4 linked regions of the Homo sapiens genome follow. The protein of the gene in region 3 interacts with the protein of the main gene of each other region in a pairwise test. Each region holds a gene or a part of one and is shown on either strand. Other genes may lie near its edges. The genes, in order: LMNB2, ZNF134, MFAP1 and FCHSD2.

Region 1 (7,500 bases), on a different chromosome or scaffold from region 3:
AGTAGAGACAGAGTTTGGCCTTGTTGGTCAGGCTGGTCTCAAACTCCTGGCCTCAGGTGATCTGCCTGCCTCGGCCTCCCAAAGTACTGGGATTACAGGTGTGAGCCGCCGTGCCTGGCCAGTCCCCTGCTTTTCAATTAGTGTGGCTTTGGGCAGGCCCCTGTGTCTCTTGGAGCCTCCATCTTGCCATCTGTCCAGTGCGGAGTTGTCCCAACTTAGAGGCCGCCTGCTGGACCCGTGGCGTGCAGGGTTAGAGCTGGTTTCTTGTCTTTGGGCCTCTGTTATCCCACCTGCCAATGGGACGAACAGCTGCAGGGAGCTTTGAGGGTGCAGGGCCTGGTGAGTGCTGGGGAGGTACCAGCCCCAGCCCCACTGGACGCCCCATTGGACCGGCCCTGTGCCCTAGAGGGAGCCTGGCCCAGCCACCTCTCGGGGCCGCAGCAGCATCCTTTACAACTCAGTTCACTCAGGCTGGGTGAAATGCGGGTCTGACTCCAGTGAAGGCAGCCATTTAGCAGGTGACACACTGGCCCCTCCGTGAGCCCTGTCACCCAGCCGTGTCTGCAGGGCATGTGGCAGGGGACAGCTGGGAGTTCCGCCTGCGACTAGTGGGCCAGGAACCCGGCTAGTGGGGAGCAGAGTTGGAAGCCTGCTGGGGTGGGGGCCGCTGGTGGGGGGACGTCATGTGGGCCCACATGGAGGGAGTGACCTGGAATAGCTGGGGGCCTTCTAGACACAGGTGGGCCACGTGGGGTTCAGAGAGCAGCCTCAGGCTCAGGCTGGCAGGATGGGGGCAGGGGAGGGAGCTCTGAACGAGGAGGGACCTGGGGTGTCAGGCCTAAGAGCATGCAGGTCACCTGGACAGCAGGGCCTCTCTCACCTGGCCAGCTTCTGCCCCCAGGGGACTCTTGGCCAAGGCTGGGCATGCCCTTGGTTGTCACATTGGGAGGGAGACGGCATCGGCACAGCGTGGGTGGAGGCTGGGTACTGCTCAGCGCCCCGAGAAGAGAATCACCTGGCCCCCACGAGGATGACGCAGCCCTCACGAGGATGACCCAGCCCCATGAGGATGACCCAGCCCCCACGAGGATGACCCAGCCCCCACGAGGATGACCCAGCCCCCATTAGGATGACCCAGCCCCCATTAGGATGACCCATCCCCCATTAGGATGACCCAGCCCCCATGAGGATGACGCAGCCCCCATGAGGATGACCCATCCCCCACGAGGATGACGCAGCCTCCATGAGGGTAACACGGCCCCCATGAGAATGGCCAGGCCGAGGAGCCTGCTGGGAGGCGTGAGGGACTCAGTTCAGATTTTTTCAGGCTCATAACACGACTCACAGCATCCTGGTGTGTGGCGGCCCCCGAGGTCCTCACACACGCCTTTCTCACTTCTTTTTTGAGATAGAGTCTCACTCTGTCGCCCAGGCTGGAGTGCAGTGGTGTGATCTCGGCTGACTGCAACCTCTGCCTCCCAGGTTCAAGCAATTCTCCTGCCTCACCCTCCTAAGTAGCTGGGATTACAGGCGTGTACCACCACACCCGGCTAATTTTTGTATTTTTAGTAGAGATGGGATTTCACCATGTTGGCCAGGATGGTCTCTATCTCTTGACCTTGTGATCTGCCCGCCTCAGCTTTCCAAAATGCTGGGATTGCAGGTGTGAGCCAGTATGCCTGGCCTTTTTTTTTTTCTAGACAGAGTCTCTCTCTGTCGCCCAGGCTGGTGTGCAGTGGCGTGATCTTGGCTCACTGCAACCTCTACCTCCTGGGTTCAAGGGCTTCTCGTGCCTCAGCCTTCTGAGTAGCTGGGATTACAGGCGCCCACCACCATGCCCGGCTAACTTGCTCACTTCTTTCCTGCCCGCAGGAGTTCACCCTTGCACACTCGTACAAAACCAGGCCAAGCATGGGTTCCACATTCCCATGTGACACTAGGGGGTGTCTTTTGGCGGTGTGGATGAATCGCCATATACAAGCATCGTTGGAGGGCTTGGGAAAGGGTGGGGTGGGGGCTGGCCAGATGGGTATTTGTTGAAGGAGGATCACTGAGTGCTGGGGGCGGGGGCAGGTGCAGGGAGGCCGCGCTGTGGCCCGTGTCCAGGCGCGGGAGAGGCAGGTACTCCAGGTACTTCCCTGCCAGGCCTTACGTTCCCGAGGGAGGAGACCTGGCTTCGGCATCTTCTGTCTTCCCCTGCCCCGGTGTCCCCTGGCTGCTCAGGGCTGCTGGAGGGGGTCTCGGAGGCGGCCCAGGCGAGCGTGGAGGATGGAGTCCACTTTGGAAGTGACCCCAAGCCGGTGTTTGCATTTTCTGCACAGGGCTGTAGTTCTTAGCCGGGCCATTTTGTCCCACCGTGGCCTCCTCCAGCCGAGTTATGCTGCTCTGTGTGTCCGAGGGGTCCCAGGCAAAGGCCATCTCAGGCTATCTGAGCCCTGCCAGGCCCACATGTGTGGACACACTTGTTGACTTCCCTCAAGCCTAGCACTTGCTAGATGCCGTGAAAGATGAAAGAAAAGGCCCAGCCTGTCCCCAGCCCTTTGCAGCGCCTCACAAGCACAAGGAGGCCGTCCTGCCCCGGCACACCCGTTCCGCAGGCTCAAAGGGTCTTTGTGAGGTGCCCCAGCCTCTAGAACTTTCCTCATCATCACAGCACGGCAGACCAGGCATGGTCAGCAGACTTTTTCTAAAAAAGGCCAGACTGTCTGCATCTGAACCACTCAGCTCTGCCATAGGATGAAAGCTGCCTTAGCCCATAGGTGAATAAGTGGGTGCTGCTATGTGTCAATAAAACTTTATTTATACACATGGAACTGTGAAGTGCATAGAATCTGCCTGTGTCACAAAGTCTCTTCATCTTCCCCCCTGGCCTTTATCGTTTTTGTTTTTGAGACAGTCTCGTTTTCCAGGCTGGAATGCAGTGGCACAATCTCCGCTCACTTCAACCTCTGCCTCCCGGATTCAGGCGATGAAGCGATTCTTGTGCCTCAGCCTCCCCAGTAGCTGGGATCACAGGTTTGCACTGCCACGCCCAGCTAATTTTTGTATTTTTAGCAGAGATGGGGTTTCACCATGCTGGTCAGGCTGGTCTCGAACTCCTGACCTCAGGGGATCTGCCAGCCTCTGCCTCCCAAAGTGCTGGGATTATAGGCATGAGCCACCTCTCCTGGCTACCCCTAGCCATTTAAAAATGTAAAAACCGTCTGGGCGCAGTGGCTCACACCTATAATCCCAGCACTTTGGGAGGCCGAGGTGGGCGGATCACGAGGTCAGGAGATTGAAACCAGCCTGGCCAACATGGTGAAGCCCCGTCTCTACTAAAAATACAAAAATTAGCTGGGCGTGGTGGTGCACGGCTATAGTCCCAGTTACTTGGGAGGCAGGAGAATCGCTTGAACCCGGGAAGCAGAGGTTGCTGTGAGCTCAGATCATGCCACTGCACTCCAGCCTGGGCAACAGAGTCTTGCCCTGTGCTCGCCCAGGCTGGAATGCAATGGTGCAATTTTTGTGTTTTTAGTAGAGATGGGGTTTCACCATGTTGACCAGACTGGTCTTAAATTCCTGACCTCAGGTGATCTGCCCGCCTCAGCCTCCCATCATCTTATGCCAGGTGCGGTGGCTCATGCCTGTAATCCCAGCACTTTGGAAGGCTGAGGCAGGCTGATCCTCCTGCCTCAGCCTCCCAAAGTTGTAGGACTGCAGCTGTGAGCCACTGCTCCCAGCAACATCCATCATGTATTCAGACTTCCTCAGTTTCCCCGATGTCCTTTCCTGCCCCAAGACCCCATCCACTATCTCACGTGACATTTAGTGACTACGTCACTGTCTCCCAGGCTCCTCCAGGCTGATAGTTTCCCCCACGTTCCTGGTTAGAGGTTCTGGTTGGTCCTGAGCGGGCTGGGCAGGTGTGCAGTAGGATGTTCCTCAATGGGGGTTTGTGTGTTGTTTTGCTCATCGTCACGCTGGGGCGATGGGATGAGTAATGTTTTAATGGAATATATATATATATGTGTATATATATATGTATATGTATATGTATTTTATTTTCTTTTTTTTGAGACGGAGTTTCACTCTGTTGCCCAGGCTGGAGTGCAGTGGCGTGATCTTGGCTCACCACAACCTCCGCCTCCCTGGTTCAAGCGATTCTCCTGCCTCAGCCTCCTGGGTAGCTGGGATTACAGGCATACACCACCATGCCCGGCTAATTCTGTATTTTTAGTAGAGACAGGGTTTCTCCATGTTGGTCAGGCTGGTCTCGAACTCCTGACCTCAGGTGATCCAACTGCCTTGGCCTCCCGAAGTGCTGGGATGACAGGCGTGAGCCACGGCGCCCAGACATATGTATATTTTTTTTGAGACAGGGTCTCTCTGTACCACCCAGGCTGCAGCGTAGTGGCGTGATCTCAGCTCACTGCAACCTCTGCCTCCCGGGTTCAAGTGATTCTCCTGTCTCAGCCTCCCGAGTAGCTGGGATTACAGGCGCCTACCACCACACCCAGCTAATTTGTGTTTTAATAGAGACAGGGTTTCACCATGTTGGCCAGGCTGGTCTCGAACTGCTGACCTCAAGTAATTCGCCCGCCTCAGCCTCCCAAAGTGCTGGGATTTCAGGCATGCACCAGCGCACCGGGCCCTAATGGATTATCTTTTAAAAATCAATTAATTCAAAAAATCTACAATGAACAAACTATTAATTCAAGTCAGGTGTCGTTTAGTGACAGGGATACCTTGTGGAAAGCGTGTCGTTAGGAGACGTGCCCCTTGTGTGGGCATGGTAGAGTGCACTCCCACACTCCCGGATGGTGGAAGCCACCACACACCCAGGCTTGGGCGTGGCCTCCTAGGCCACAGACCCACACCGCCCGCTCCTCTGTGGAATGCTGTGGGCACCGGTTACACAATGGTAAGTATGTGAGCATTTAAACACGAGAAAGGGCTGGGTGCGGTGGCTCCCGCCTATAATCCCAGTACTTTGGGAGGCTGGGGCAGGCAGATTGCTTGAGTCCAGGAGTTTGAGACCAGCCTGGGCAACATAGCAAGACCCCATCTCTTAAAAAAAAAGTTAGAAACTAATTAGGCAGGCATAGTAGTATGTGTGCCTATAGTCCCAGCTATTGGGGCAGCTGAGACAGGAGGATTGCTTGAGCCCAGAGTTTGAGGCTGCAGTGAGCTGTGATTGCGGCATTGCTCTCCAGGCTGGGTGTGGCTCTGTCTCAAAATAAGTAAATAAACACAAGAAAGGTGCAGTAAGAATATGGTATTAGATTCTTTTTCTTTTTATTTTTTGAAGTGGAGTCTGGCTGTCGCCAGGCTGGAGTGCAATGGCCCAATCTTGGCTCACAGCAACCCCTGCCTCCTGGGTTCAAGCAATTTTCCTGCCTCAGCCTCCTGAGTAGCTGGTATTACAGGTGCACGCCACCATGCCCGGCTAATTTTTTTGTATTTTTAGTAGAGACAGGGTTTCACCGTGTTAACAAGGATGGTCTTGATCTCCTAACCTCGTAATCCGCCCACCTCAGCCTCCCAAAGTGCTGGGATGACAGGGGTGAGCCCCCATGCCAGGTTTGCATTAGAGTCTTACAGGACCGCCGTGCACATGGTCTGGGGGTGCTCAGCATGCCTCTGTGCGTGTGGCTGCCATTGCAGAGTTGCTGTTTTTTCTCACCTTGAACGGGCTCCTGTGTGTCCCGGCGCTGATCTTGTCTTTGTTGGAAACTCTGCTGTTTTGTTCATCCTGGCCCCTCTGCCTCGTGAGCCGCAGTCAGCTCTCTCTCTGTGGGGACAGGAGAGCTCGTGTGTGACCCCCATCCTGAGGGTGTCCCGTCAGCCCCTCCCTTGAGGTTAGGGGTATTTGGGAGCTTTGAGGGAGAGGCAGACACCACCATGCCTGCACCTGGTGCCCAGCTGTTTGCAGCGTGGAGCTGGCCGCTTTTTCCTGATTTGGGTTTTTCTAGAAGTCTGTTCCCAGGACACAGATGTGGAGGGCACGGCCCAGATGATCGCCTGCATGGGAGGGAGGGCTTGGGGGTGGCCGGGGTGCCGCGGGAGGAGCTCGCTTTGCACTGCTGCCTCTGTGGGTCCCCGTCCTACAATTGGTCCCCGCAGACCTGATATGTCTAGGACCCAGCGGTGGTCAGGAGGCGGCTTTTTACTGACCCGTGCCTCAGTTTTCCCATACATAAAATCAGGTTGGGAACCCTTATCCCGCCCCACTGTAGGCTGACGGGACTTGGAGCTGCGGTGCTGGGGCAGCCTGAGACTCTGACTTGTCCAGATGGCCCAGCATGCGTTGGTTTGAGGCTGAGGGTCCCACCTCAGAAGAGGCCCGGTCACTGCCAAGGGGTGCGTCCTGGCAGGCCCCCAGCCCTCTGCACAGGAGCCTCGCCTGTAACATGGGGGTGTGGCCCTCCAGATGCAGGCCGACCCTGTACCCACCTTGCATAGACACCCTTGGCCCTGTAGGGCTGTGGGAACATCACGGCGTTCTAGCGGGTGGTGCTGGGCCTGGTTCCGCCTACCATCCTCCGGTCCTCCTTTTCCTCAGCGCCAGAGCCGGAGCAGTTAATTCCCGCCTCATAAGGTTCACCCAGCTCACCCGTAGGTTTCGCGTTTTCATATCTCCACAGCTGTGCCACCACCAATGTGTCCAATTTTAGAACGTTCATCCCCACTAAAAGAAGCCTGTCCCCCTCAGCGGTCACTCCCCGTCCCCTTCTCCAGCCCCGCTGCCCACACACCCGCTGCCTGTGTCTGTGCACTGGCCTGACCTGGACATTTCATGGAAATGGGATTACACACTGTGTGGCGTTTTGTGTCTGGCGTCTCATGAGTGTGACATCCTCAAGGGGCATCCACACTGTGGTGTCAGAACCTTGCTCCGTTACACAGCTGGGTCATGTTCCTGTGTGTGGATGGTGGAGGGACCGCATTGCTTTTATTTTTTTATTTATTTTTATTTTTCATTTTATTTATTTATTTATTTATTTTGAAACTGAGTCTCGCTCTGTCTCCCAGGCTGGAGGGCAGTGGTGCGATCTCGGCTCACTGCAAGTTCCACCTCCCGGGTTCATGCCATTCTCCTGCCTCAGCCTCCCAAGTAGCTGGGACCACAGGCGCCCACCACCACGCCTGGCTAATTTTTTGTATGTTTTTTTAGTAGAGACGGGGTTTCACTGTGTTAGCCAGGATGGTCTCGATCTCCTGACCTTGTGATCCGCCCGCCTCGGCTTCCCAAAGTGCTGGGATTACAGGTGTGAGCCACTGCGCCCGGCACCATGTGTAGTTTTCAAACATGCATGGATGTGAATTTCATGTCTTCTGGGTCCACACCCAGGAGTGGAGTTACCGGGTCACAGGGTGGCTCTGTGACTCTTGGGGGAGCCCCTGGACTGTTTTCTGTAGAGCTGTCTCAGCTCAGGTTCCTGCCGCTGCCTGTGAGGTTCCGATTTCTCTGCGTACTCGCCCGCACCTGCGACTGTCTGTCTTCTTGACGGACGCCCT
Region 2 (7,988 bases), on a different chromosome or scaffold from region 3:
TGTTGCATTAAGCTCCTCAGTGGTATTCCTTCCTTCATCCTCACTCCCACAGTCTTTTTTCACTGTACAGAGGAAGTTGGTTAAGACCAAAGTCAGATCACTCCCTCCTAGCTCCAAACCTGCAGTGGCTCCCAATTCTCTCAGCATACAAACCCAGATCCTCAGGCTGCCATTTCTGGGCTGAATCCTGTCCCTGCTGTCTGATCCCACCAGACATAATGGAGGCCTGAGGTTCCCTGAACACTCCTAGTTTAGCCTTAAGTTAAGTATTTGCACATGCTGGTTCCTATGCCTGAGATAATGTTCCACATTTCATCCCATTGCTTGCCAGAAATAGAAACCCTTCCACATAATTCCAAAACAGAATTTACAACACAGAGCTTTGGGTGACTGCAGGACCTCCAAGAACGGTAGGCAGAAGGGACACTGAAGAGTCCCAGAACACTATCATTCTCCACACTGAGTTGCTGAGATAATGGGGGTGTGTTGGGCTAAGTGAGGGCCTGAGACAATCTACTCTCATCTAGGTAGGAATCATAAGTTTCTGCCACCATGGCAACCTCACAAGAGGAGGGAAGCTGGGAGTGGCAGGTTCCCACAGTGGGATCTCATCGACTGAACTGTTTCCCTAAGCCCTGCCTACCCTGCCCTTTGGCAGGAATGATTTTGGGTTACCTCTCTAACTTCAGATACTCAGATCTCAGTGCTGGCTCCCACCAGCTGTGTGAACATAAAGACCAGCGTCTGAGTGTCCTCATCTTAAAAGTGGGGATAATAATGGCACCCACCTCATAGGGCTACTGTTTGTATCAGGCTTGTCTGTACATCTCAAGTGCCTTTGAAACAGCTACTACTATCCATGCAAATGAACTGATGAGTTTTTGAAAAATTAGGTTTGTTTTGCCTGCTTTAAAGCTTTTAAGAAAATTTGGTTAAGATTTTTCCATTGTAATAAAATACTTCAAGGCAACTTAATATTTTGACCAATCATTAAGTGCTAGTATAAATTTCCCTTACTTTGTACATACATTTTTTAGTTCCTTCTGCGTACTTGCAAGGTGTACACTAGCCCTTGCACTAAACCAGCCTACCTGATACATATTCCTCTGAAGGGGAGCTGCAGTGATCCTTCATTAGAGATGTTCATCAATTCTGCTTACCTGAGGGTTTGGGTAACTGAGGCACCAATGCACTGGTTGGGGATGGGACTGCTCCACAGGCAGCGCCCATGAAGGCATGCTGAGCCTGTAGGGTGGCAAACCTACTGCATCCCTCACCTTGGTCTCCAGTGCAGGCCAGGCTACTTATGCTCTACAGCCCTCTCCTCTTGCTGACACTATAAGATATAATAAAATTCCTCTTCAAAGGTTTAGCCTGTTAACTTCCTTGTTCTTTGTTCTCAAACCTTTCTTGTTCTCCATGCCTCCTTGCCCCTAGTTACTATAAACAACCTTCCTGTAAGCACTAACCAATAATTCACATCTGTTCCCTTACTCACTTTGCACCCATTGCCCCCGCCAAAACCACACGTCCTACACAACTCACATGTCCCACCACTGTAACTCACCTTCCCCTTCCCTCTTCCTTATTTGGAAAATACTCACAAATACCCAATTGGCTCAGCTTAGATTAAGCGGTCCGACCCCAGCCCATGGGGGAGTGACACAGAGGAAGGTAGGGACTATGGGTTAGAGATAAAAACCCCTTCCCTCCTTTGTTCAGTGTGCTCTTGGGATCGTGATTAACACAGGCAGCACACTTGCACAGAAGTAAATTGCCTTGCTGAGAAAACTTTTGCCTGAGTGCTGGTTTCACTTTGCAGCACCAAGCATTGACTTCCAACAACACCATCTAGAATGCTTTCACATGCCAGGACCCCTCCTTTCTGGAAGGAATCTTAAGTGTCCACCCCTTCATCCCTGGCCTTCCACCCTAAACCCACCTCTCACTTCAGAGACCACACAAAATAACTTCCTTGAAATTCCACCCTCTAAATCTGATCTACTACAGGCTTTGACCTTATGCCTCACCCATTGAAGTCTCTAGCACAACTCCCTCTCTAGAACCCCAGACCTGCATGTTCAGCTACCCGTGATGAACCTCCAGTGCAGAACACCTTAGATTCACCAAGTCCAAAACCCAATTCCTGATGCCCCTGAAACGTGCTCCCTGCTGTGACTTACCAATTTCCATTCTTTCACACGTTCAGGAAGGAAAACAGGCCAAAAAAACCCTGGATAGCCCTTTCCTCCCTACATTCACTCACGACCACATCTGATGCGGCAGGAAACCCCATTGGTTCCATCTTTAAAAATCTACCCAGAATCTCATGACTTCCCCACCCAACCCCTCCTGCCACTGCTCTGGCCCAGCCACCACCGCAACACTTCTGGAGTTTGTTGCAGGGACCTCCTCAAACGTCTCCTTGCCTCCATCCTCATCGTTTCTACCTCACTGTAGTCGGTTTCCTCCTCAGCAAACATTGGAATACTTTAAAAATCCTTTTTCGGATCCCTTCCCTCCACCATTCAAAACCCGCCATGGCTCCTATCGTCCTCGCAATGAAGGAGCAACTTCTCCCCTCGACATTGCAGGCCTGACTACGGTTCACACACGCTCCCGACTGCTACGGGCTCAGTCCAGCTCCAAACCTATGCTCAGGCTGCCCCTCTGCCAGTCACACTCGCCCCCACCCACCAGCGCCCCGCTGCCTTGGACACTGGGGCCTGCGCTGCAGGGACTCAGACAGGCGCTCCTCATTTGGAACTTCAGGATTTGGGGCGGGCGAAAGTCTGGGAAAGGCAGCACCCACCTGCGCCGGGCCCATCACCGCGGCCGCCGCCATCACAGTTCGTAGACCACCCGGAGCCGCGAGGGGGTCCCAGGTCGCGGGACCCTGGCACCGCGGTCGTCCGTCCCCGGGGGCGCAGGCGGGGTCTTCGCTGGCGAGCCACTCCGCAGAGCGAACAGCGACTTCTCCCGCACCCTCCCGCTTCCGTCACCTCGGAACCGCCCAGCAACCCCGAGCTTCTGCTCCGATGGTTCCACCTAAGAGCCGACAAGATGTCCACCGCGAGGAAGATACCGGAAGTCCCGCCCAGAGAGCTTCCGTCCGCAGGGAGACGCCCCTAAGAGTGCCGCCGCCGGGCGGCGCACAGGTTTCTGGGCAATGCAGTTCTCATGTGCACTTGGCCGTGGTGACGGCTAACTCCCCTGCACGCTGGGCAAAGGCCAAATGGTACTGCGAGGGGCGCTGAGAAATTATGCCCTGAGACTCTGAGGTCAGGGCGTGGCTTCGCTCCTTTTAAAGGACCCTCAACCAGGTCTTGTGTAGTGAGGTCTGCAGGGATCCCCGAAATATTGGGATATATTCTTACAGATGTTCCCTGAAGCCACACCACCAAATGGACACACAACATCCAATGTCACTCTGAGTCCACTCATAGTTCAGTCAAATTTCCTTCATTTAAAAAATATGTGTACTGTAGAGGGAAGCTTTGAGTCAGTTTTGTGAGCCTCAGTTGGGTCAGAGTTAACAGAGAATTGTCCCCAGGCAGGGCCATGGAGTGGAAGAATGGTCTCCAGACAGTGGCTATGGAGGGATGCTGGAGCTCCCTGAGGCAAGTGGACTAATATAGAGCTCTTCCTCTGGTTTCCTCAGAAAAAAAATACCTGAGAGAACCATGAGGAGGAAGACAGGCGAGAGAAGGTGGTCAAGGAAGGCACCTTTCCTGCCTGTATGGTCACTAATGTCCAACCAAAGGAGAAATATTCTTTTATCCAAATGAGAGTTCCTAGCCCAAAAGTTGAGATATATCTATTTCCTTTTGGTGATGTTTCTTATCTGAAAAGAAGAACCATTATAAATGCTTTTATATGCCAAGACAGGGGCTGAAAATGTGGTGTCTGAACCCAGAAATAAAGATTTGGAAAATTGGGATCAGATTTCTTGGCTGGGAGGTGATTCTCATTTCACCTGCAATTACACCGACAGTGTCTGAATTGAGAATTGAGATTTATTTATGGTTTTAAAAAAGAAAAGGGCGAGTGTATGGGGAAAGAAAGACAAAAACATTTGTGAATTGTTTAAATTACTCAAAAGTTGTTTTGTGTTTTTTTTTTTTGAGACGGAGTCTTGCTCAGTCGCCCAGGCTGGAGTGCAGTGGTGCGACCATAGCTCACTGCAGGCTCCGCCTCCCAGGTTCACACTATTCTCCTGCCTCAGCCTCCGGAGTAGCTGGGATTACAGGCGCCTGCCACCATGCCCGGCTAACTTTTTGTATTTTTAGTAGAGATGGGGTTTCACCGTGTTAGCCAGGATGGTCTCGATCTCCTGACCTCGTGATCTGCCCGCCTCAGCCTCCCAAAGTGCTGGGATTACAGGAGAGCCCCCGCGCCCGGCCAAATTACTCAAAGTTAATAATTCTGTAGTTATTCACAGATACATGACGAAATGGACCTGGAGAAACATATCTGTGATAAGTGAAAACGGTTAAGATGACAGCAAAATTTGAGCAGGAGACATTGAATTCTGAGAAGTGAGCAAATGAAGCTGAGCACACAGCTGTGTTAGAACTATGACTACAAGCAGCGTTTAGTCTCCAAAATGTAATTTTATTTATTTATTTAATTTTGGAGACAGGATCTCACTGTGTTGCACAGGCTGGAGTGTAGTGGCACGATCATAGCTTGCTGCAGCCTCAAACTCTTGGGCTCAAGGGATCCTCCCACCTCAGCCTCCCAAAAAGTTGGGATTACAGATGTGAGCCACCATGCCAGGCCTCTTTTCATTCTTGAAAACACTCAATAATACCTGGAAGGAGAAGTAAAGAAAACATTTAGAAAGTGCTATCAGAATATTAAGGTGAACAGGGATGCTGTAGTATTATGCTTATTCATAGTTCTAAGAAATATTCAAGGAACACCTACTGTATTTCAGACACTATCTTAACTGCATGGGACATTTACAAAACAAGAGACAGACCCCAATAGCTTACGCTGTACTCAAGAAAGAGGAGGAAATATGAAAAAAATGCTAAATTATATGGAATGTTAGAATGTGGCAGGCATAATGGAGAAAAGAGAAGGTGAAGGCATTGAGAAGTGCTGGAAAGATATGTAATATTACATAGCCAAGAGAGGCCAATTTGTGGATGGGTCTTTATTGGAAAAGGACATGGAGAGCTCAATGCCAGTGAAATAAAAGTTTAATGTTACTCAGAATTTCCCTAGAAATGGGAAGTACAGTATGCCATGCAGGGCCACAGGAGGAACAGGTTTCAGTCTAAAGGAAGAAGCAAGAGCTAGGGGAAAGCCTAGGCCAGATCAGAGCAAACAGCTGAGTACTGGCTAGTCTGAATAATTCTGGTTGGCTTCGATTTACAGGGGTGGTCTCTAGTTGCCTCATACCCTCACCCTGGTGTTAGAGTAGGTAGATAAGAGTAGGGCAGGAGAGAGGGACCCCAGGAATGTCAGGCAATTTTGGAGTCAAGGACAGGCAATCATAAATCTTTTCCTCTGAGATAATAAACAAAACAAGAGAGGGACCCCCGAGATGTCCAGCTCTCATTGGGTGAAGGACAGGAAAGCATAAAACTATCCCTCTGAGATGATAAGTGGCCATGATTGGTACCAGGAGGGAAAAGAGTTTTCCAACAGATAGAAAACACCTGGAGCCAGTGAACCACAACCCCTGATAAGGTTTCGAGCATGCACAAAATGGGGCAAGATGGCAAAATTTGACTGGTATTTGACCTTCCTCTGGGGGTGCATGACTTGTTAAGGGAAGATCACCCCAAATGAGTATATGTATGACTTCAGTAAACAAACTGCATGCGGCCCCTCCCAAGTACTGGCAGACCACTGTGCATGCAGTAGTCAAGCAACAGCCTACCGAAGGAAGGAGAATAAAGAGCCTGGGAAATAAGCAAATGTATAAAGTCCCAAGCCAAGGATCAAGTGGGGCACTTGACCTCTCAAGTTATCCACTTGGCCCTTTTCCAAGTGTACTTTGATTCCTTTCACTCCTACTCTAAAACATTTTAATAAACTCTCACTCCTGCTAAAAAAAACTTGCCTTGGTCTCTTCCTGTGCCTTAAGCCAACCTCTGCCTCCTCGGTTGAATTTTCTTCTGAGGAGGCAAGGACCAAAATTGCTGCAGACTGCTGCAAAATCACTGGCAGTAACGCTGGGATGATTTAGTGCAGGGAAAGTATTGGCTTGGTGAGTAAGAGTTAGATAAAGAGGGTAGTTGGCTTGCCTTGCTCTCAAGGTAGTTGTTTACTATTTTTAGAAATTAGCTACCTCTGGTAGGGTAAGTCTCTCTGTCACCAGCAAGAATTTTAAGATGTCAAGACATATAATACAAAAAACAGAAACCATGATTAATACATATGCTTCCTTAATGAGAGGGTGGTTGAAAAAAAAGGTTGAGGAATGACAGCCCTGAACAGACCATTTCACAATTATAAACATAAAAATATTCACTTAATATGTGTGTTCTTGGAAATTATAAGATGTGCACAATGAATTTGGGGGCTACTGATTCAGGCAAGGTTTTAAGCTCAGAATTTTGTCCAAAACGGTCACCTTGTTACTTTTCTGGCCTTCAGGGAATATGGCCACTCAGCAGGTCCTGAGGAACAGCTGTTCCTCCCTGTTTCCTGAGGAACAGTGTTGGGGAACATGGGACATATGCTGGAAACAAGACACCCAATCCATGCTGTTTCAAAACACTGCAGGCTGTCAAGTTGTCCAGTTTCCAATAGAAGTGGGAGGCCCAGATTTTTAAATGGAATAACTTTTTATAGGTTCATTGAGGTGTAATCAACATGCAATGTACTGCACATATTAAAACAGTAAGTATACACACACACACACACACACACACACACACACACACATATGTACACTTTTGAAATCATCACCCTATCAATGGTGTTGGACATATCTGTCACCTCCAAAGTTAACCTCAGGCCCTTACCTAAGGGGAAGTTTTATAAATAAAAGCACAAAAAAATACACACTTTATGATGTCTAAAATAAAATTCCAGAAAATTCAAGTCAATCAATTGTAAAGGAATGTTAAAAGTTGCCTGCATATTCTGGAATGTATTATAAAAGAGCAAAAGTAAAATATGCAGGTGAGATATGCTCATTCTTATGATTACAACAATGCTTCCATGGGTTTACATTTATGTCAGAACTTATCAAGTTGTACACTTTAAATATATATAATTTATTCCACATCAATTATAACTTGATTTTTTTTTAATGGATGCAATAACAATCTTGGTCATTGACACTTCAAAAAGTCTGGTTTACTAAGTCTCTATTGACTCTACCATCTAGCTCCCCAGGCCACGTAGAGGCAGACCTGCTTCAGTGGCAGGAAATACAGGTGAGCAATGAAGGCCATTTCCATCAGCGTTAAGAGGATTGCTACTGGATCACAAAAGCCGCACCAAGGACAACCGAATCTCTCTTGACTTCATCCTTTTTTTTTTTTGTCTGTGCAGCAATGGCCTTGAAGTAAACAGGCCAGAGAGGCTACAGGAATCCACAAAACCCTTGTTGTCTCTAGTAATAACTTGAGCTACAAGACACACATTTCTAGAGATTTCTGCACACAGTGATCTTGCAGTCATAGTCACTGGAACATTTGTGGATACTTTTTTTTTGAGACAGAGTTTCGCTGTTGTTGCCCAGGCCGAAGTGCAATGGTGCGATCTCGGCTCACCTCCCAGGTTCAAGAGATTCTTCTGCCTGTCTCCTGAGTAGCTAGGATTACTGGTGCCTGCCACCACACCCAGCTTTTACTTTTACTTTTTACTTTTACAATTTTTGTACTTTTAGTAGAGACAGGGTTTCGCCATGTTGACCAGGCTGGTCTCGAACTCCTGACCTTGGGTTATCCACCCACCTCGGCCTCCTAAAGTGCTGGGATTACAGGCGTGAGCCACCACGCCCAGCCTTTTTTTTTTTGGAA
Region 3 (7,500 bases):
GTTTGTGGGGATAGGATTAAAAATAGAATGATACTAAGTTGTATCTTTTTACATTTGAATTTGTTGTGTTTGATGAGACGAACAAAAAGCCATAGGCCATTTGACTGACTGGCTTATATATATGACTTGATAGGAAATAGAGCGGCGGCGTGGCATGATGCGTCAGCGAGCACAGGAGAGAAAAAATGAAGAGATGGAAGTCATGGAAGTGGAAGATGAGGGTCGTTCTGGAGAGGAGTCAGAATCAGAGTCTGAGTATGAAGAGTACACAGACAGTGAAGATGAGATGGAGCCTCGCCTTAAGCCAGTCTTCATTCGAAAGTAAGTATCTCACAAGCCAGATCTGAATCCACTTAATTACCACTTTCCAGGCCTGGAGACAAAAGTCTGTTTTCTGTCTTGCTATTCTGAAATCTAAACGCTGAGTGAAAGTGCTTTTGCTAGTGCTCTACCCTTGGCAGACTAGCTGCTGAGGAATATCTTGGCGTTAGCAGAGAACCTGAGTTTGTTTTCACATCTCTTTTTTCAGTAATAGAGCATATATCTGTCCAAGGCCTTTTTTTGTTTGTTTGAGACAGAGTTTCGCTCTTGTTGCCCAGGCTGGAGTGCAATGGCATGATCTCGGCTCACCACAACCTCCACCTCCTGGTTTCAAGCAGTTCTGCCTCTGTCTCCCGAGTAGCTGGGATTACAGGCATGCGCCACCACGCCTGGCTAATTTTGTATTTTTAGTAGAGAGGGGGTTTTTCCATGTTGGTCAGGCTGGTCTCGAACTCCCAACCTCAGGTGATCCGTCCTCCTCAGCCTCCCAAAGTGCTAGGATTACAGGCATGAGCCACGGCACCAAGCCAAGGCCATATATTTTTAAGCACAAAATTAAACTCAACGAGCAAATTCCTATTCCTTTCCTGATGGCTAGAAATCCTACTGCTTAGAGGCCAGCAGGTTCTTTGCTGTCTAGGCAGTTCTCAAAGATGAACATGATTTTAGTCCTCTAAAGACCTGGGATGATGGCTGGGCACGGTGGCTCACGACTGTAATCCCAGCACTTTGGGAGGCTGAGGTAGGTGGATCAGGAGGTCAGGAGTTCAAGACCAGCCTAGCCAAGATGGTGAAACCCCATCTCTACTAAAAATACAAAGAAATTAATCAGGTGTGGTGGCAGACTCTTGTAATCCCAGCTACTCAGGAGGCTGAGGCAGAGAATTGCTTGAACCCAGGAGGCGGAGGTTGCAGTGAGCCAAGATCACACCACTGCACTGCAGCCTAGGCGACAAGTGAGACTCCGTCTCAAAAAAAAAAAAAAAAAAAAAGACCTGGGATGACTCAGCGTTTTTTGCTCTTTGAAAATAATAGAGCCAAAGATTGTTTGGTTTTTGTCTGATTTGGATGGGACTAGGTCTAGGGGAACAAAGCACTCCACTCTAAGGACTTTGGGCAATTAACAGGATCTCTGTGATGCAGGAAGGACCGAGTGACAGTTCAAGAACGTGAAGCCGAAGCATTGAAACAGAAGGAGCTGGAGCAGGAAGCAAAACGCATGGCTGAGGAAAGGCGCAAGTACACACTCAAGGTACTGGGGAGTGGTTGCAAGGAATGAGTACAAGAAATAGTGTAATCAGGTTTGTCTGAGGAGAGTAAGGAAGTCCAAGCTGAATTGTTCTCCCTATCCAGATTGTCGAAGAGGAAACCAAAAAAGAGCTGGAAGAGAACAAGCGATCCCTGGCTGCATTGGATGCACTCAATACTGATGATGAAAATGATGAGGAGGAATATGAGGCATGGAAAGTTCGAGAGCTAAAAAGAATCAAGAGGGACAGAGAAGATCGAGAAGCGTGAGTAAAAAGATGAGCCTAGAGTTAATGCTGCTAATGGAACAGGTTTCTAGCAGGATAGCTCTGAGACTCATTACCTACTGTGAGTTCCATTCTAGCCACCTTCAGAGTTCTTGTTGCTTTGTGAGTTTCCTATAATTGGAATATGAGTTTCACTTGCTACAGTGAAATCAGGGAAGAGAAAAACACTTTGTCGATGTGTGTCCATAATAGAGTGCCAGCCAGTGCTCCCTTTAGTTTCCTAGTAGACACAAAAATTAGTAACTGTTAGTAGTTATCTCTTCTTGTGTACAACCCAACCCACAATTGAGTGACTTGAAACTATAATTTATTACTTTTCACAACTTTGGAGGTTGGCTGAACAGTTCCTCTACTGATTTCACCTGGGCTTACTTATGTAGTTGCATCCAGCTGGAAGGTTGACTGGGCTGGAAACTTAAAAGGGCTTCACTCACATGTTAGTAGTAGGTGGTGGCTATCAGTTAGGATACCTCACTTATCCTTCACTGGATTAGACTGGCTTCCTTACATAGCAGTCTCAGGGCACCATTCTAAGAGGGCAAGGTCTTCTGACATGTCGGTTCCAGAACTCATACATCGATCTTGCCACATACTGGTCAAAGCAAGTCACAAGGCCAACCTAGCTTTAAGCAGGTGGAGAAACAGACTCCACCTCTGCAGAGGAGGAGCAGCAAAGTCATACTTTTTGAAAAGGGGCATACATACTGTGAGGGGAAGAATTTGTGGCACTTAAATAATCTACACTGTGTTAGAGCAGAATCTTTTTTTTTTTTTTTTGACATGAAGTTTCACTTTTCACCCAGGCTGCAGTGAAGTGTCACAATCTCAGCTCACTGCAGCCTCCGCCTGCCAGGTTCAAGTGATTTTCCTGCCTCAGCCTCCCAAGTAGCTGGGATTACAGGCATGCGCCACCATGCCTGGCTAATTTTCGTATTTTTAGTACAGACAGGGTTTCACCATGTTGGTCAGGCTGGTCTCGAACTCATGATCTCAGGTTGTCCACCCAACTCGGCCTCCCAAAGTGCTGGGATTATGGCATGAGCCATCATGCCCGGCCCCAGCAGAATCATTTCTGAGCTGCATCACTCATTCCTGTAAATTACTAGGTATGAGAGGGTAATCCCAGATTACAAAGGAAACCATCAATAGATAACTCTAGGCTGGGCGTGATGGCTCACACCCATAATCCCAGCACTTTGGGTGGCTGAGGCAGGCGAATCACTTCAGGCTGAGAGTTCAAGACCAGCTTGGCCAACATGGTGAAAACCTATCTCTACTAAAATACAAAAATTAGCTGGGTGTGGTGGTGTGTGCCTGTTATTCCCAGCTACTCGGGAGGCGGAGGCAAGAGAATCGCTTGAACCCGGCAGGCAGAGGTTGCGGTGAGCTGAGATCGTGCCACTGCACTCCAGCCTAGGTGACAGAGTGAGACTCTATCTGGAAAAAAAAAAAAAAGAAAAAAAGAAAACTTGCCTGAGTATGAGCTACACACAGTAGATAACTCCATACTCAGCCTGTAATTTTTTGTTTTTGGTTTTTTTTTTTTTTTTGAGACACAGTCTCACTCTGTCGCCCAGGCTGGAGTGCAGTGGCGCAATCTTGGCTCACTACAACCTCCACCCCCTGGGAGTCAAGCGGTTCTCCTGCCTCAGCCTCCTGCGTAGCTGGGACTACAGGTATATGCCACCACGCCCAGCTAATTTTTGTATTTTTAGTAGAGGTGGGTTTTCACCATGTCGGCCAGGCTGGCCTTGAACTCCTGACTTCAGGTGATCCACCCACCTCGGCCTCCCAAAGTGCTGGGATTACAGGCATGAGCCACCACGCCTGGCCCTCAGCCTGTAGTTTCTAAGATTTTTATCCTGGACCTGTAGGAGTAGGAGTCTAAGTGCCCTTTAAAATTGTACACAAGGCCGGGCGTGGTGGCTCACGCCTGTAATCCCAACAATTTGGGAGGCCGAGGTGGGCGGCTCACAAGGTCAGGAGTTTGACACCCGCCTGTCCAACATGGTGAAACCCTGTCTGTACTAAAAATACAAAAATTAGTCGGGCATGGTGGCACACACCTGTAATCCCAGCTACTCAGGAGGCTGAAGCAGGAGAATAGCTTGAACCTGGGAGGCAGAGGTTGCAGTGAGCCAAGATCATGCCACTGCACTCCAGCCTGGGCAACAGAGCAAGATTCCATCTCAAAAAAATATAAAATTGTACACAAAATTGTGTGTATGTATGCATTTTATTTGGAGACAAGGGATATCACTCCCTCTCCCCAACACTGGCTAAAAAGTTACTGCAATCTGGCTGGGCGCAGTGGCTCACGCCTATAATCCCAACACTTTGGAAGGCCAAGGCGGGCGGATCACGAGGTCAGGAGATTGAGACCATCCTGGCTAACACGGTGAAACCCCGTCTCTACTAAAAATTCAAAAAGATTAGCTGGGCATGGTGGCGGGCACCTGTAGTCCCAGCTAATCGGGAGGCTGAGGCAGGAGAATGGCATGAACCCAGGAGGCGGAGCTTGCAGTGAGCCAAGATCACACCACTGCACTCCAGCCTGGGCGACAGAGCAAGACTCCATCTCACCAAAAAGAAAAAAAAAAAAAAAAGTTACTGCAATCTAATTAATGATGGTAATCTTTGGTTTATGACATGCAAGCACCTATATGATTATGATACACTTACATAAAGGAATACCAGCAAAGCCTCAGACACTTATTTTAAATTCACTGATTTTTTTTTTTTTTTAAAGCTAAGAAGACCTTTTAGGGAAAGAGAATTTGTAATGTTGGAAAACCCAGCAGTAATAGTATGTCTGAACGTCAGAAGGGCTAGAATCAACTTTTGAAAGTTGGCAATACCTAGTCTAGCAAACATAATGAAGACTAACTCACCCATTTGTTTATTGAGCTCCTTATCTTGATTCCTAATAGGCAATGACTAGAATTAAAGAAGGTGACTAATACTTGAAATGACATGGGACTGTTATTTTCAGATAATTTGGTCTTTCTGAAGCTGTAACAGTACCAATAAATTGTTTTGCTCCCTGGACAGGCTTGAGAAGGAGAAAGCAGAAATTGAACGCATGCGAAACCTGACTGAGGAAGAGAGGAGAGCTGAACTTCGGGCAAACGGCAAAGTCATTACCAACAAAGCTGTTAAGGGCAAATACAAGTTCTTACAGAAGTATTATCACCGGGGTGCCTTCTTCATGGTAAGAAGTGAAAAGAGAGTCAGAAAATTGGGCAGTAGGAATAACTCAGAAACTTTGAATTATTTTTCTCTTCAAGAATATTCTGGAATGTAATTTCCACTTGCCAGTGGTCAGCTTTCTCATTTGCTTTTTCCTTCTGAACAATATAAACTCAGAGAAAAGCATCAGCAATTGGATGACAGAAGTAGCATCAACTGTTCTCTCTTTTGGCCCCAACTCTCAAAAATAGGAAATGATGTAATAGACTTTTTTTTTTTTTTTAAGAGACAGAGTCTCGCTGTCACCCAGGCTGGGGTACGGTGGTGCGATTATAGTTCACTGCAACCTTGACGTCCTGCGCTTTACACCTGCTTCAGCCTCCAGAGTAGCTGGGACTACAGGCATGCAACAACCATGCCTGGCTTTTTTTTTTTTTTTGGTTATTTTTTTTTTAATTTTTCGTAAAGACCAGGTTTCACTATGTTGCCCAGGCTGGTGTTGACCTTCTGGCCTCAAGCAATCCTCCCACCTCAGCCTCCCAAAGTATTAGGAATACAGGCATGAGCCATCATCCCCAGCCTTAGATAAATTGAGGAAATGAAATAGAGAAGTGATCTGTACAGATAGTGGACTAATTAGGTCCTCCACATGACATAGTTGTCATTCTTTCATAGCTGAATGAGAAGTTTTGGTTATGTGAAAACCAAACTCTGCAAATAGCTTTACATTAATTCACTTTTGGGTGGCAGAAAGTTAGTTCACTTCATTCTGAACTGACAGTACCCAAGAGTAACTAACCAAAAAAAATGGTTTATTATCTAACCATTAGATGGAATGCCGTCATCTTTGTTTTTCATATAAAGACTAAGATCAAAATAGCAATCTGTTAACCCTGTATGGTTTATTTCCTAATGTTAAAGCAGTTTGCACCAAAAACTAGACTAGCTTTTTCAAGTGCCGTGTGGCAAATTCTAAATATCCCCACTGCAACTAAATTCCTGCCTTTCACTGCAGATGCTGTTAAAACTTCAGTGGCGGCTTCCCTGCCACCCTCCAAAATCAGTTTCAGGTCTATCTGATTAGCAGGAAGTGTTTACTTAGGTAGTTTTCCAGCAGATGTAGCTTACTATTCAGTGGAGATTATGAACTACTTCTTGTACTGCTTCGGTCATAAAGTTTGTTTGCTTAAGCAGTTCGCAGCTTTAATAATCAAGTTTCTTAGAGAAGCAGTTCATTGCTAGTTAAGATACATAAGAAAAGTGTATGTGAAAGTCCTTTGGTGGGCCAGGTACATTGGCTAATGCCTGTAATCTTAACATTTTGGGAGGCAAGGCCAGCAGATCAGTTGAGCCCAGGAGTTCAGCCCGGGCAACATGGCAAAACCCCATCTCTACAAAAAATACAAAAATTAGGCGTGGTGGTCCGTGCCTGTAGTGTCACCTATCAAGGGGCTGAGGTGGAAGGATTGCTTCAGCCCGAGAGGTTGAGGCTGCAGTCAGCCGTGATCGTGCCACTGCACTGCAGCCTGGGTGGCTGACCAAGACTTTGTCTCAAAATAAATTGTTTTTAAAAAGTCTTTCTTAAACAAGATAGTGCTATTTTTAATTCCTTCAGCATATGTGTTTATAAATATGTATCACAGCATTGTAATATTATCACTCAGGCTAGAGTGCAGTGGTGCAGTCATGGCTCACTGCTGCCTCATTCTCCTGGGCTCAAGCAGTCCTCCTGCCTCAGCCTCCTGAGTAATTGGGACTACAGGTGTGTGCCACCACACCTAATTTCTATTTTGTAGAGATGGGTTTTGCTATGTAGCCCAGGCTGGTCTCAAACTCCTGGGCTCAAACTCTCCTTCCACCTTGGCCTCCCAAAGTGCTGGGATTACAGGCAAGAGCAACTGCATCCAGCCTTACTAATGTTGTTTATTTCATTGAGTAAGTAAGCTTTAGTGCATATACTATGCAAAGGTCACTGTTTAGCACTGTTAGCGAGAATACATAATCACTATAACATAAGTAAAAGTAAAGTACTGTAGGGGTTCTGACGAGAGAGATGTTATATTTGGTAGAAGATTGAAAGGGTTGACGTAAAGGTTGTAACATTTAAGCATTTAAGATGTATAATTTTGGGCCGGGCGCGGTGGCTCACGCCTGTAATCCCAGCACTTTGGGAGGCCAAGGCAGGCGGATCATGAGGTCAGGAGATTGAGACCATCCTGGCTAACATGGTGAAAACCCATCTCTACTAAAAATACAAAAAATTAGCTAGGCGTGGTGGCGGGCGCCTGTAGTCACAGCTACTTGGGAGGCTGAGGCAGGAGAATGGCGTGAACCTGGGAGGCGGAACTTGCAGTGAGCCGAGATCACGCCACTGCACTCTAGCCTGGGCGACAGAGTGAGACTGTATCAAAAAAAAAAAAATTAAATATATAATTTTTTTTTTTGTCACCTAGGC
Region 4 (8,313 bases), on a different chromosome or scaffold from region 3:
ATATGCCTTAGTCATAAACCCTGAAGACAGGTATACAGCAGAAATGCTTATAGTGCCTAAATATAGGAGAGGAAAAAAGGAAATTCTTGAAACTAAAATCTTTGGGCTATAAACAGCAATCCAAACACATAATTTTATCATTAACACCAGAGTTAATATTTTTCATGAAACCAACACGAAGTTAGTGTACCACCAGAAAACTAGGTAACTGATGAGGCTTACAGACCCAATTCCAATTTGATAAATGTATTATACAAGGGAAATAAGAATTGCAGCCACTCTTGCTTCACCATGCAAATCATCTTCCATTCTTGACGAAAATCTTTGTTGAACTGTCAGTCTGTATTACAAGATTGTTAAATAAGTGGTATTTCTTTCATTAAAATAAGTCATCCATCCCTCTAGTAAGAAAGATACTGATTTTCACAATATTAGCAAGATGTCTTAGCTATTCAAAGTTAACTTGATTATGAATATGAGTAACCTCAATAATAAAATAAAATATGATAAACACACTTCTCACTAAATTTGGCACTCAAAAACAAAGTTGTATTTGTCATGTTCTAACCCAGTGAGAGCATATAACCATCTGGGGTTGACTGGCTCACCCCCAGATATTAACCATTAACCACAAGTGTTGGTTTAAAAATCTAACTGTGTAAAACCGTTAAGGTCAATAAAATGATTGTTACAATTCCGTGGAAAGATTATTTAAACAAGAATCTTTAATTATTATAATTTGACTAGTAAGACTTTTAAGGTCCTTGTTTTTTCTGAATACTATGTGTGCATTATAGGTCCCCCACTGAAGGAAAAAGTTTGTATTGTGTTAGTTCCAGTTCTAATTTCCAGCTGAGTCAAAGTTCTAACAGCCTTAAAGCAGGAAATCCAAAAGGAAATTCCATCATCAGTTCCTGGGGCTTGGTAACTCAAAGGTTCTTTGAAACAGACAAACAGAAGTCCTTGAACTATTTACTATAGCCTTACCTCATATCTTCAAGCAAATCACATTCTGCTTGATGTTTGGCTTGAAGTTTTGTCATCTGCTCAACTTGAATGTTTTTCAGTTCTTGTGTAACTTTCACCTAAAATATACCATATATTTATGAAGGTCTTTTTACAAATTTAACCCAAAAAAATTGCTTCAGGAAAATACATCTGTCAGAATATGTCTCTTGCTCGCCTCTCCCCTGAAGGCCATAAATCCAATATTCGCCATCTAGTTTTATTTATTGAAGATACTTATTTAATGAAAAATTAAAGCCAAATAGCCTGAACAGAGGTTAAATGAAAATACACGACTATAAATATTACAAACTAAAGACGTGCAAAATAAACTGCCAGTCATTCCATTTCATGCACAAGCTCAATCCACGTCTAGGTCTTCCTACAGTTTTAAAAGAGCCTGTCTTCTATTTCTAAAAAAGATTCAAAGACATTAACCACCAGGAGAGGTGAGCAGAGTGTGGATGGGGGCTGGGAGCCTAAGAGTGCCTGATACCCAATGACCAATATTTACACAATCATGATAATATGCCTGAATCGACTACATAAATTACTCCATAATGGCTGCGAAAAAGCACACTGTCTCAGAATGATGCCCTCGACTTGCTGACAGCGCATCAAATCACAATCTCTTTCTCACAAAGGAGAAAGCAAAAGTGACCTTCCAGCATATGCAGTGCTTTTAAACTACCCCGGGAAGCCGATCCCCGTGGAGGCTCCACTTCAAACAGCGGAGAACAGCAAATGCCTGCTGGCCAGAGAGCCTCGCCCGCCAGGCCGGGGCCCCAGGGTTCGAAGTTAACGGTCAGTCTGGAATCTCGGCCTCAGCAGTGGGACCACCCGGAGGGGTGGGGGTACATGTTCGAAAGAAAAGGACTCACTTAAATGGAGAAACCCGGATTAGGAAAGAGAGAAAGCAGCGGCAGCAGACACGGGTGAGTTAGGCGTTAGGCAAATGTTTGCCCACGAGGGGAGGACAGAACGGCCTCATCCACCCAGTGCCCAGAGTAGACATTCAGTATCCATCTGTAGGATTAAAAAGACAAGGACACAGCCTCGGCCCCTGGGAAAGCTGGGGAAGGGCGCAGCGGGGAGACTGATGACAAGCCGGGTGCATCCGTCACTCCCACCCTGGTCATCCAACCCCGGATCGCAGTGCACACCCCACGCACCTCCCGGGCCCGGTCCTCGCTTTTCTGAAGACAGCACGACAGCCTCCTCGCCCCTCAGCCGGGGACGAGGCAGGACCCGTCAATCCTTAATTTGTTTTCCCTTGGGGTGGGGAGGCGGTGACTATTCCAACTTCTTTTCGGCCGCCCCGTGGGAAAAGCAGGCCAAACCCTAAGGCTAGGCTAGAAACAAATCCCCCGCAAATTTGCAAACGGGCGGGGCTGGCGACAAGCGGCTGGAGGGCTCAAAGCTGGTGCAGACTAAACAATCACACACGCACAAGGCTCTGCAAAGCTGCAGGGGCGTCCCCGCCTCCCCCTCGGTGCAGCCCCGAGAATGCACTTTGCAGCGGGCAGCATTGCCATGCGCGCGCACACACACAAATGCACACCCGAAACTCTTGTGAAATGTCTGGGGGTCTCCTGCGTTAGAGGACGGACGAGCCCCGGCGGCCCCTCTGTCGGAAAGGCAACTCACACGCGCGCCCCCCACCTGGAGCCGGCGGCAAGTCGGTGACAAGCCCAAGACGAGGGCGGTCACGGCCCCTTGCGGGAGGGGGAAGGGGCGCAGCGGTCGCCCCAGCCGCGTTCCGCGTACGCATCTCTCCGAACCCCAAAGCCCCCCAGCTGCGCCCTTACCTTCCTCGGCGGCGGCTGCATGATGCTGAAGGGACATCAATCCTCCCCGACGGCAGCGTTAGCAAGGACCAGGAGGAGGAGGAGGGCCGGAGAGGAGGGGACGGCCCAGCGAGCGCGCGCGTGTGTGAAAGGAGCGCTTAAGAAGCAAGACTTGCCCCGGAGGGAGCAGGCCAGCGGGCGGCAGGCGGACCCCAGCCAGAGAGCGAGTGTGAGGAGACGAGGGAGGAGCACCGGGAAGGCTTGGGGCCCGGGCGGCCCGGGCGGCCCGGGGGTGTGTGAGGAAGGAGGCGGAGACGGCGAGGGGGCGGGGGCCCCAGGAGCAGGGGCGCGAGGGTCTCAGCCGGCCGGGCGGCGGGTTAGCCGCAGCCGCGTTGTCCGCGCTCCCGGTCGGCCGCCTGCGCCGCCGCTCCCGGCGGACGCAGCGGCCCCCACCCCACCCACTCAGGCGGCCCGGCCCTCGCTGGGCCTAACGCCCCCGCCCGCCCGGGAGGAGGAAGGTGGCGCCGCTCTCCCCGCTAGGGCTCCACCACTCAGGCCGCGGGAATTTCCGGCCTCGCCGCGCGGCGCAGCGCCCCGCTCCGGATGCTGAGGGAACCGCTCTGTCCAGAGCGGGGTTCGAGGGGCCGGTCCGGGCTGCCAGGAGGGAGCTAGGCCACGGCACGGGGCTTCGTACCGCGGCAGGGGAAGGGGGAAGCTAACGGATTGGTCGGTGGGTGGGAGGTGTAGAAACGCCAGCGCCACGCGAAAATCCCCCCTTTCTCTCCGAGAGTGGCACGTTCCAGACGCCTCCTGCCCTCCCTCCCCCACGCTGGGAGCCAGCCGGGGGCTTCCCGCGCGCTTTCCCGCCAGCTCGCCCCGGCGCGCGCGTCTCCGCTCGGGGGCGCGCACGTGGGCGGGAGAGGGCTCCGCGCCGACGCACGCGCACAGGCCGCCCCCGCCTCCTGCCTGCCTTTGCGTGTGTGTGTGTGTGTGTGTGTGTGTGTGTGTGTGTGTGTGTGTGTGTGTGTGTGTGTGTCGGGGGGCGCGGGGGACGACGCTCGCAGGGAAACGTTTGCAGTGGGGAGGGGGGCGCAGCATGCCTGTGGGATACGAGAATTCCGGCGTTTTCTTCCTCTCAGCCCCTCAACACCCTACTCTCCCTACCAGCTAGATGTGCGCGAGAGAGGCGAGCAAGGACAAGTCGCTTTGCGGCTGGCCGCAGGTGCCAGGCCATTGCGATTGTAGGGCGGAAAGGCAGTTGCTCTGCAAAGGAAACGGCGGCACTCTACTGCAGGGCATTCAAGTCAAACATCACTGACTCCGCTGAGAGGGAGCCAAGAGAACGTTAAGGCCGAGGCCCCCGTTTCACAGACGGGGAGGCAAGTGCCCATAGAGGGAAGCCTTTCTAAAGGTTACACAGCAGGACTAGAATCTGCGTCAGGAAGTGTTCTATGGGTTATTTTAAAAAAGAAACAGGTGCAGGATAATAAGCACGAGGAAAAGTAGAAGAGGCAGGAGAGGCCATAGAGGAAGCCCTTGTCTGGGAGTCAGGATCTCTGGGTGCCAGTCCACTTTGCCTGCTCCTTAACAGGCTAGGTGAGCTCGGCTTCCTTATCTGCCAGTGAGGGTGCTTATCTAAGCAGTGCACCCCACCACCACACATGAACCTTCCTGCTCTGTTCAGACCATCTACGGGGGAGTTTATCGACCTCCCTTGGGGTCCTCAGAAGAGGAATACCTCTTCCCCATGCCCAGGGAGGTTTTTTTTTTTTTTTTGAGTCACGGGGCTGTGTGGAGGCTGAGCTGGATTACTCCACCGTTTTTTCAGAAGTTGAGATCCCAGACAGCTGTTCTCAGAAGTGCAGTCAGGCCTAAGAGGAAGGTGAATGAGGCCTGGATAGACGAGTAACTTCCCAGATGACCACATGACCAGAAATTGAAAAGGTGGAACTTCAACCCAGGTTGTTTACATTGAGTTAGACTAGATTCTTGTACAGAAAAGTGACAGAGCTGTGTTTTGAATAAGATTAATCTAGAGCTGTGTATGAACTAGGAGACTAGTCTTGCTTTTTCTGGCTTCAAAAGTTAGCCCTTCACCAGAATCCTTAATCAAATCAGGGAAGGCCTGGGGCAAGGGGACAGGTGGATGGAGGCCCAGGGCCCTGACAGCTGCGGGGTGGCAGCTAGAGCCCAGGCCATAGGTAGCGTAGGCTGGGCTCCAGTCTCAGCTCCACCACCAATTTATTGTGAAGCGTTGAGCTAGTCAATTCACTTATTTCAGCCTTGTTTCCTCACTTGTAAAATGGAGGTATAATGCTAGCCTCATAGGCTTACTGTATTAAATAGAATTTCTCCTACCACAGGGCCTGGCATGTAGTGCTTAATAAGTGCTTATTGAGGCCAGGCGCGGTGGCTCACGCCTGTAATCCCAGCACTTTGGGAGGCCGAGGTGGCCAGATCACAAGGTCAAGAGATCGAGGCCATCCTGGCTAACACGGTGAAACCCCGTCTCTACTAAAAATACAAAAAATTAGCCAGACGTGATGGCGGGTGCCTGTAGTCCCAGCTACTCAGGAGGCTGAGGCAGGAGAATAGCGTGAACCCGGGAGGTGGAGCTTGCAGTGAGCAGAGATGGCACCACTGCACTCCAGCCTGGGGGACAGAACGAAACTCCGTCTCAAAAAAAAATAAAAAATAAAAAATAAAATAAGTGCTTATTGATTCATCATTCATTCAAAAAATACTTGCTAAAGTCCTGCTTTGTTCCAAGCCTGTGCCAGGCACTGGGGTTCTAGAGATGAGCAAGATAGAATCAGCCTTCGCCAAGACTGAGTTCCAGACCAACCATTCCTTGAATGACACTGGGCTAGTGGAAGAGGAGTAACACAGTACTTGGCCCGGATGCAGTGTCATGCACATAACAAGTGCTTAACAAAGATTTGCTGAATCCTAGTCTTGGGTGCAACTGGTCTGGCCCAGAGATTATCCTCCCTTCACCTCTCTTCTTAGGAAGTGAGCACTGGGGTATAATGGTGCTGGATGTTGGGAGACATGGGATCCAGCCTCTACCATGGATCTAGTGGGTCTTCTCTGGGCCTTGGTGCTGGCCTGCAGAATAAGATAAGTGAGTGAGCCTAGAACTTAGGAGGCTCTTCACAGAAGAAGTCAGACCCTGGGGATTTCGTTTATGCATATAGGAGGGCATCCTCTACCTGATTTGCCACCGTTCTGAAGCCAGGAGTGGCACTGACTTTCTGGAATGATTTCCTTTGGAAGTGTTATAAAGAGCTAAGGGCAATACCAGATGGGCTTACCTACTAACTCCTATTTCAAAACTGTGATTTAAAAAAATTGTTTTAATACTTACCAAGTGTCTCTTCCAAACCCTAAACTTTCATATTACTTTTCCAAGCTAATCTTTACCCATGAGATAGTATTCGTTTCTTCATTTTTACTGATGGAGAACTGGAGGCTCAGTGGGGATAAGTGACTTGCCCTGACATGATAGACTTCAGACCATAACCCAGTTGTCCGATGAGGAATGTTCGTGTATGAAGAATGTTCAAAGGAATTGGGAGAGTTCCTAACGCAGGAAAATAAGCAGACCCAGGAGGATACAATCCATTATGTTCCAGACTCTAGGGGACCAGGGAAGGGATTTCTGTGACTTATGTAAGCCTGACTTGAAATGTACCATTTTGAACAGGGTTGGGGACTTCCAGAGCCTTGCTCCTGCAATGCAGGCAAGCGCTGTGTTGCCAGTAGCATTGCTTGAGATTCTTTGGGGAAATGGTGCAGAGCAGCAGGCACTATGGCCCCAGAGACAAAACTGGGACAGGTGTTAGCTGCATCTCAGGAAGGAACTTTTCCAGGCAGAGCTACCCCTGGAAGGAGTGAGCTCCCTGTCCCTGGGGCTGTGCAAACAGGTTCTGGCTCCCTTCCATCAAGGAGACCACAGATGGGATCTCACTCTGAAAAGAAATTAATAACAGCTGCCATTTATTTTGCCTCTTCCATGTTCCAGACATTAAAATAGGCGTGTTATTTACATTGTTTCCAACATTCACAACAACTCCTCATAATACATATAACCCCATTGCACAGGCTGCAGCTCAGAAGTGAAATGACCTACCCAAGGTCACACAGCTAGTGAAGGAAAGGGAGGGCTGGCCCCTGGCTCTGAAGCTGTGCTCTCCCTCCAGCATGCTGCAGTGCAGTCTCCCATTTCATTAGGAATATGATTCTAAGGTTAAGTCAGAGCTAGGATCAAAAACTGGCCTGGAGCAGGTATATGAATGGGTATCAGAAGATCAGCTGTTCTGATATTCCAGGGCTCCTGGGAAAACTGGCAGGGAGACAAAGTATACAGCGGCCCTTTAGCATGGCCAGAACATGAGTAGCACACTACTCCCCATCCAGAGCACGCACCTAGGACAGTTTGACTTCGTCAAAGGCTCTCTTCAGAGAAAGTAGCTGCCAGTCCCCCTGCCCACACTGCACCAAAGCATCCCTGACCGTTCCTGCAGTTGGGGTCCATCAGCTCTCTCTACTCTGTCTTCCTCTGTGTCATTATCCCCCACCTGCATTGACACAGACTGCTCAGGAATACTTGTTAGCACGTCTGGATGCCAGCTATTCCCTGCCTGGGCCCCACCAAGTCCAGCTGGGGATGCTGCGGCAGACAGTGTGGTCTATGGACCCCATCCCCATTCATCTCCTTCCTACCCCTAGTCACCTTTCCCTACCCATGCCTTTGCTCCCTGAGCTAATTCCCTCAACACCAGCCTCCTGCCAGCCTGATGTGAGAGTGTGCCAGTCTCTTCCACTATCAGCTCTCAGGACAGAATCCCAGCACAGGTAAATGAGACTTCAAGATTGGTGGCCACCAGAAGAGAGCAGGGGCTCTCCTTAAGACACATAGTGAGTTTGTTCAAGGCACTAGGCCTTGAATTCCATAGTATCACTCAACAAGCCCTTATCCTGGGCTTAGTCATAAGCAGGTCTCTGAGGTGAGGAGCTGCCCACCAGGAGCTCCCAATCTCAATACAGAGACCAAGGTCACAGCAGTGAAACATGCAGGGCCAGGAGGGTCATAGGGACCCAGATCCTACCAGGTGGTAGCAGAGATCTAAGGCCAGAGGCAAGTCCCTAAGAAGCAGGCACTGGGACCAGGAATTATCTTGTCAAGTGTTGCCCCTACCAGGGAATATTACAACTTTGGGTGGCAGGGGTGGGGGTGTACGGTAAATGAGCAGTCAGTCCCAGGGCTATGGTAGGAGCTGATAGGCACATGGTTTTAACATTACAAGGCAGGAAACCACGGTGCTAATTCTATCTCTGCCAGGTACTCACTGAGTGTGACCTCTAGCGCATCACTGTCCTCTCAACCTTGGTTTCTACATCTATAAAATAGGAATAATAAATTCCATCCTGTCTTCCTCTTGGAGGGCTGTGCAGGTTAAATGAAATAACAGGTAAATGGTCTGCAAGGGCTGAGGAGCCACATAAACAAGTAACTGCT

Evidence for each region.
Region 1: the proteins of MFAP1 (region 3) and LMNB2 interact in binary tests that used the Homo sapiens proteins (3 or more experiments, as listed by UniProt).
Region 2: the proteins of MFAP1 (region 3) and ZNF134 interact in binary tests that used the Homo sapiens proteins (3 or more experiments, as listed by UniProt).
Region 4: the proteins of MFAP1 (region 3) and FCHSD2 interact in binary tests that used the Homo sapiens proteins (3 or more experiments, as listed by UniProt).

Annotation. Positions count from the first base shown.
Region 1 is NC_000019.10:2,446,631-2,454,130, reverse strand, and holds part of LMNB2 (lamin-B2), read left to right. Parts: intron 1-7,500. UniProt on the Homo sapiens protein: Lamins are intermediate filament proteins that assemble into a filamentous meshwork, and which constitute the major components of the nuclear lamina, a fibrous layer on the nucleoplasmic side of the inner nuclear membrane.
Region 2 is NC_000019.10:57,609,328-57,617,315, reverse strand, and holds the start of ZNF134 (zinc finger protein 134), read right to left. Parts: upstream 3,075-7,988; 5' UTR 2,813-3,074; intron 1-2,812. UniProt on the Homo sapiens protein: May be involved in transcriptional regulation.
Region 3 is NC_000015.10:43,807,322-43,814,821, reverse strand, and holds part of MFAP1 (microfibrillar-associated protein 1), read left to right. Parts: intron 1-133; coding exon 134-321; intron 322-1,464; coding exon 1,465-1,573; intron 1,574-1,674; coding exon 1,675-1,835; intron 1,836-4,907; coding exon 4,908-5,067; intron 5,068-7,500. UniProt on the Homo sapiens protein: Involved in pre-mRNA splicing as a component of the spliceosome.
Region 4 is NC_000011.10:73,139,044-73,147,356, forward strand, and holds the start of FCHSD2 (F-BAR and double SH3 domains protein 2), read right to left. Parts: upstream 3,276-8,313; 5' UTR 2,835-3,275; coding exon 2,814-2,834; intron 2,442-2,813; exon of another isoform or gene 2,178-2,441; intron 1,086-2,177; coding exon 988-1,085; intron 1-987. UniProt on the Homo sapiens protein: Adapter protein that plays a role in endocytosis via clathrin-coated pits. Contributes to the internalization of cell surface receptors, such as integrin ITGB1 and transferrin receptor.